Homo sapiens: one gene and its partner. The protein of the gene in region 2 interacts with the protein of the main gene of each other region in a biochemical or structural test. Each region holds a gene or a part of one and is shown on either strand. Other genes may lie near its edges.

Evidence for each region.
Region 1: the proteins of PIAS2 (region 2) and SUMO2 form a complex in vitro, tested with the Homo sapiens proteins (4 studies listed by BioGRID).

The regions. Positions count from the first base shown.
Region 1 is NC_000017.11:75,176,383-75,180,036, forward strand, and holds part of SUMO2 (small ubiquitin-related modifier 2 isoform a precursor), read right to left. Parts: intron 1-3,654. UniProt on the Homo sapiens protein: Ubiquitin-like protein that can be covalently attached to proteins as a monomer or as a lysine-linked polymer.
Region 2 is NC_000018.10:46,886,433-46,890,086, forward strand, and holds part of PIAS2 (E3 SUMO-protein ligase PIAS2), read right to left. Parts: intron 1-3,654. UniProt on the Homo sapiens protein: Functions as an E3-type small ubiquitin-like modifier (SUMO) ligase, stabilizing the interaction between UBE2I and the substrate, and as a SUMO-tethering factor.

The sequences.
Region 1 (3,654 bases), on a different chromosome or scaffold from region 2:
ACCAAGGCAGATCATCTGAGGTCTGGAGTTCAAGATCAGCCTGGCCAATATGGTGAAACCCCGCCTCTACTGAAAATACAAAAATTAGCCGAGTGTGGTGGCATCCGCCTGTAATCCCAGCTATTCGGGAGGCTGAGGCAGGAGGATCGCTTGAACCTGGGAGGCGGAGTTTGCAGTGAGCCAAGATCGTGCCCTAGCACTCCAGCCTGGGTGACAGACCAGATTCAATATCAAAAACAACAACAACAACAACAAAACCGACCTAAAATGCCCCAACCTACACCCTTGAACTTCCTGGAATAGCTTTAAAAAAGCACCGCTTTTTAATTTCCTTTAATACTTACCCAAATCTGTAATTACTTACTGTCTTACTAAAAAACACACTTCAGGAGATATAGGAACCTAGACTGTTTTAGTTACACAGTCTATCCCTTGCACATAGTAGGTGCTGCTCAGTAAGTATCAGTGGCATAAAAGGGATGAAAAACAGTATATAACCATCATCTACTTAAAAACAAAGGCCAAGTATTGTGGCTCACGCCTGTAATCCTAGCACCTTGGGAGACTGAGGTGGAAGATCACCTGAGGTCAGGAGTTCGAGACCAGCCTGTCCAACATGGTGAAACCCCGTCTCTACTAAAAACACAAAAATTGGCTGAGCACAATGGCACACACCTGTAGTCCCAGCTACTCCAGCCGGAGGTTGAGGGGGGAAAATTGCATGAACCCGGGAGGTGGAGGTTGCAATGAGCCGAGATCGTGCCATTGCAAGAGCGAGACTCTTGTCTCAAAAAAAAAAAAAAATTAATTAATTAAATAAATAAAAATACAAAAAATTAGCCAGGCTAGGTGGCAGGCGCTGTAATCCCAGTTATTCAAGAGGCTGAGGCAGGAGAATTGCTTGAACCCAGGAGCAGAGGTTGCAGTGAGCTGAGATCATGCCACTGCACTCCAGCCTGGGCAACAGAGCAAGACTCCATCTCAAAAAAAAAGAAATTAAAAAATTTGCATGGTGGCCAGGTGCAGTGGCTCACGCCTATAATCCCAACATTTTGGAAGGCCAAGGCAGGTGGATTACCTGAGGTCAGGAGTTTCAGAGCAGCCAACCTGATCAACATGGTGAAGCCCCGTCTCTACTAAAAATACAAAATTAGCCAGGCGTGGTGGTGCATGCCTGTAATCCCAGCTACTTGTGAGGCTGAGGCAGGAGAATCACTGGAACCTGGGAGGCGGAGGTTCCAGTAAGCCTAGATTGCGCCATTGCATTCAGCCTCAGTAACAAGAGGAAAACTCCATCTTAAAAAAAAAAAAGAAAAGAAAAGCCAGGCGTAGTGCTTCATGCCTGTAATCCCAGCACTTTGGGAGGCCGAGGTGGCGAGACGGGTGGGTCACCTGAGCTCAGGAGTTCAAGACCAGCCTGGCCAACGTGGTAAAACCCCGTTTCTACGAAAAATAAATTAGCCGAGCACGGTGGTAGGTGCCTATAATCCCACCTACTCAGGAGGCTGAGGCAGGAGAATTGCTTGAACCCGGGAGGTGGAGGTTGCAGTGAGCCGAGATTATGTCACTACACTCCAGTCTGACCGACAAAGCGAGACTCCGTCTCAAAAAAAAAAAAAAAAAAAAAAAGAATCGCCCAGTGGCACAAGCCTATAGTCCCAACTACCTGGGAGCCTGAGGTGGGAGGACTGCTTGAGCCTGGGAGGCAGAGGATGCAGTGAGCCATGATCATAATCCTCCCACTGCACTTCAGCATGGGCAACAGGGCAAAAGCCTGTCTCAAAAAAAAAAAGGCAAAATTTTGCAATTGCAGAAAAGTTAAATAAGATATGCATAAGAATAGTGTTCAAGGCCAGGCACCAGTGGCTCACACCTGTAATCCCAGCACTTTGGGAGGCCGAAGCAGGCGGATCACGAGGTCAAGAGATCGAGATCATCCTGGCCAATATTGTGAAACCCCGTCTCTACAAAAAATACAAAAATTGGCTGGGCACGGTGGCACGCACCTGTAGTCCCAGCTACTTGGGAGGCTGAGGCAGGAGAATCGCTTGAACCCAGGAGGCAGAGGTTGCAGTGAGCCGAGATGGTGCCACTGCACTCCAGCCTGGGCAACAGTGCGAGACTCTCAAAAAAAAAAAAAAAAAAGAAAAGAATACTGTTCAAAACCACCAAACTGAAGCATGATTCTGTTTGTTTGTGGTTTTGAGACAGGGTCTCATTCTGTCACCCACACTGGAGTGCAGCGATGAGATCATGGCTCACTGCAGCCTAGACCTGCCAAGCTCAAGCAATCCTCCCACCTCTGTCACTGAAATAGCCTGGACTACAGGTATGTGCCACCACAACCACCTAATTTTTTTTTAAGAGATGAGGTCTGGGCCAGGCGCAGTGGCTCATGCCTGTAAACCCAGCACTTTGGGAGGCTGAGGCGGGTGGTTCACGAGGTCCTGTAATCCCAGTGACTTGGGAGGCTGAGGCAGAAGAATCGCTTAAAACTGGAAGGCGGAGGATGCAGTGAGCCGAGATTGCGCCACTGCACTCTAGCCTGGGCAATAAGAGCAAAACTCCACCTCAAAACAAAACAAAAAAACCAGATGAGGTCTTACTATGTTGTCCAGACTGGTCTTCCAGCCTTGGCCTCCCAAAGTGCTGGATTACCACGCCCAGCCTATGATTTTCTATTTTGTATGCAGTTTTGCTAAAGAAGTTCTCCAAAAGGATTACCTTTTAAAATTCCCCTGTATCCTGAAGGGGCACTAGTGTTCAAATATAGAAGATGCCAGTTTATAAATTATTTAACACAATTCATAAGTTCATGTAGGGTGATTTCAGCAAAATTCTTCAAATAAGAGTATATGGTATCTTGCTGGGCACAGTGGCTCACGCCTGTAATCCCAGCACTTTGGGAGGATGAGGCAGGTGGATCACCTGAGGTCAGGAGCTCAAGACCAGTCTGACCAATATGGTGAAACCCCATCTTGCTGACAATACAAAAATTAGCTGGGCGTGGTGGCGTGCGCCCGTAGTCCCACCTACTCGGGAGACTGAGACAGGAGAATCGCTTGGTCTCGGGAGGCAGAAGTTGCAGTGAGTCGAGATTGCACTACTGCACTCCATCCTGGACAACAGAGCGAGACTCTGTCTCAAAAAAAAAAAAAAAAAAGGTATCTTTATAAGGAACTACATACAAGAAGGTTTACATATCAATTATGAGCACAGTATTTTCTTATTACATTGTAAATACACTAGGCATAAAAATACTTCAAACATTCTAAAGTTTTTTTTTTTTTTTCCTTTGAAATGCTCTCGCTCTGTCACCCAGGCTAGAGTGCAGTGGTGTGATCTTGGCTCACTGCAGCCTCCACCTCCCAGGTTCAAGGGATTCTCAGCCTCAGCCTCCGGAGTAGGTGGGATTATGCGCGTGTAACACCACGCCCAGCTAATTTTTTTGGATTTTTAGTAGAAATGGGATTTTGCCATGGTGGCCAGGCTGATGTCAACTGCCACCTGCCTCAGTCTCCCAAAGTGCTGGGATTACAGATATGAGCCACTGCATCAGGCCTAAAGGAAGTTTTTATCTTCACTGATCTTTCAAGTATAAACTCAAACTCAATTTCCCAACTTACATAGGTTTAAGCCTTATTCTATTTTGAG
Region 2 (3,654 bases):
AAACAAATTAGGGAAATACGTTAACCAGATAAATCAACTCTTTAAAAACAAGGCTAAAGATGAAAGTAAAATCATAAAAGACAGACAACCGGGTAATAAGCATTTAAAATACTTGCTCTTGTTGGCCAGGTGCAGTGGATCACACCTGTAATCCCAGCACTTTGGGAGGCCAAGGCGGGTGGATCACCTCAGGTCAGAAGTTCAAGACCAGCCTGGCCAACGTAACGAAACCCCATCTCTACTAAAAATACAAAATTAGCCCGGTGTGGTGGCACATGCCTGTAGCCTCAGCTACTCGGGAGGCTGAGAGAGGAGAACTGCTTGAACCCGGGGAAGTGGAGGCCGCAGTGAGCCGAGACAGCGCCACCGCCCTCCATCCTGGGCGACAGAACAAGACTCTGTCCCCCCCCTCCAAAAAAAAACAAATAAAATCGAATAAAATAAAATACTTGCTCCTGTTACTAATTTTAAAAATAAAAATTTAAGCAAGATACAAGTTTTCATCTAAAAATCACAGAGATCTGTTTTCAATAGCACCCAGTAAAGGCAAAAAGTAATGAGATATGACAAGCATTCTCTCACTTTGCTTGTGGAATTTAAACTGGCACTAAAATAATTTGGCAATATGTTATCAAGAGTCTAAAACGTTCTTTTTACTTGATCCAATAATTCTACTCATAGGACTTTGTACAAACAAATAATAAAACATGAACAAACACTCAATCCTTATTTCAAAGTGAACGTAATAAAGAGATAAAATGCAATACTCCACTTGCTTGGATCACCAGTTTTGCTAAAACATAAATAAAGCAAAAAGCAAAAAATTGAAAAAAAAAAAAAAATAGCCACATTGCCTGCCACTAGTCAGGCCATACTAACCCCACTAACTAGCTCTACCCCTCAAAACCTTCCGATTTAACCAAGACAGGCTGCAGTACAATCCTGTAAGACAGGTAAAAAAGCACACTGATATGTTTAAGTGTTTTCACATGACTGAAAATAAAAAGGGTTTTCCCAAGAAAGAAAAGAAAGCAATCTTCCACATCAACTATGAAATGTTACTTCCCAATTTATTTCATAAAGAAATTCAAATATATTTGTAAATAACTTCATTAGGCAGTAAGAATTATAACACAGCAATGCAAAAATTTGTTAGTCACATTGTAAGCAATTGATGGGCATTAAATAAAAGCTAAAAAACTGCATGTCAAACTCCCTGTGCCACTTTAGAAATAAAATTAAATATAAAAGGTTTATTTCTTAGAAAATCAGTTTAAAAGCTACATTAAATGGAAAGTAAGTCCCTTTATAAAAATATGAAAAGTATCAAAATACAAAATCAGGATCAATAAATAAGATTTGTATCTATTCCCATTCACACGGAAGCAATCTGATTTCTACACCATAAGAATGCTTGAGTAAGTTCTAGCCAGAGCAACTAAGCAAGAAAAAGAAATAAAAGGCATACAAACAGAAAAGAAAGAAGTAAAATTATTCCTGTTCACAGATGGTAGGCTCTTATATACAGTAAACCTTAAAGATTTCACACAAAAAACCTGTTAGAATAAATGAATTCAGTAAAGTAGCAGAATACAAAGTCAACACGCAAAAATCAATTGCATTTTTATAAACTAATAATAAATATGATGAAAAGGAAATTATGTAGTTTTTACAATAGTATCAAAAAGAAAAAATATTTCAAAATTAACCACGAAAATGAAAACCTGTACAATAACAACTATAAAACATTGCTGAAAGATATTAAAGAACACATAAATAAATAGAAACACAGCTCATGTTCATGTACTGGAAGACTTAATTTTTTTTTTCCCCATCAGCCTATGTGGGAAAAGAAAGACTTAATATTGCTAAGATATCAATACTACCCAAACAAATTTACAGATTCACTACAATTCCTCTCAAAATCCCAATTTTTTTTTTTTATCAGAAATAGAAAAACTCATTCTAAAATTCACGTGGAATCTCAAGGGCCCCAAATAGCCAAAACAATCTTACAAAATAATTAAAGCTGGAGAATTCACTCTTCCTGATTCCAAGACATATTACATAGCTACGGTAATCAAAACTGTGATACTGGCATAAAGACAGACATCTAGACCAATGGAATAAATCAACAGTCACAACCTTTTTGGCCAGGACCAGTTTCATGGCAGACAATTTTCCCACAGGCCAGGGGAATGGTTTCTGGATGAAACTGTTCCACCTCAGATCATCAGGCATTAGATTCTCGTAAGGAGCATGCAATCTAGATCCCTTACATGCACAGTTCACAGTAGGGTTCCTGCACCTATGAGAATCTAATGCCACTGCTGATCTGACAGGAGGTGGAGCTCAGGCTGTAATGCTCGAATTCCTGCTGCTCACCTCCTGCTGCTCACCTCCCGCTGTGCGACCTGGTTTCTAACAGGCTGTGGACTGGTGCTAGTCCACGGCCTGAGGGTTGGAGACCTTGGAACAGAGAACCTGGAAATAAAACCTCACATACATGGTCAAATACTTTTTGACAAGGGTGCTAAGATCATTCAGTGAGGGAAAGGACAGGCTTTTCAACAAATGGTGGGGAAAAACTGGATATCCACAAACAAAAGAACAAAGCTGGACACTCACCTAATACCATATACGAAAATTAACTCAAAAGAGATCAGGCTTAAATGTAAGACCTAAAACTATAAAATTCTTAAAGGAAAACACAGGGCAAAACCTTCACAGCATGAAGTTTAGCAATGATTTCTTGGATATGACACCAAAGGCATAGGCAACAACAACAAAAAATAAACAAATTGGAATTTCATGAAAAAATGTTAAGTTGTACATCAAAAGACACTATCAACAGAGTAAAAAAGGCAAACCACAGAGTGGGAGAAAATATTTGCACATTCATATATCTGATAAGGGATTATATCCAGAATATACAGAGAACTCCTAAAACTCAACAACAATAAAACAAACCAATTCAAAAATGGGCAAGAGACTTGGCTATACATTTCTTGAAAGATACATAAATGGCCAAAAAGCACATGAAAATGCACAATATCACCATCATTACAGACATGCAAATCAAAGCTACAATAAGATACCACCTGACACCCATTATAATGGCCACTATAAAAAAAAAAGGAAAATAAAAGTGTTGTTAAGGATGTGGAGAAACTGGAACCCTTGTGCACTGTTGAAGGGAATGTAAAATGCAGCTGCCACGGAAAACAGTATGGTGATGCCTCAAAATACTAAAAACAGAATGACTATGTGATCCAGCAATTCCACTTGTGGGTATACAGCCAGAAGAATTGAAAAGCAGGGTCTCAAAGAGATACGTGTATACCCGTGTCCACAGAATTATTCGCAATAGCTAAAATGTGGGAGCAACCCAAGTGTCCAATGGATAAGCAAAATGTGGTATCCTATAACACAGAAATATAGAAGTAAAACCAGAAGAAACAGCTAAAATAATTAAGGTTGTTGCCTCTTGAAAGTGAGATTGAGGGATGAGTAGTGGAGTGAGCAAAAGATTACTATTTTTCTTTAAAAATGTATACTATTGTATTATTTAGCCTTTAAAAGGAAAGAAATTCTAACATAAACTACAGCATGCTAGAACCTTGAGGACATTACATTTAGTGAAATAAGCCAGTC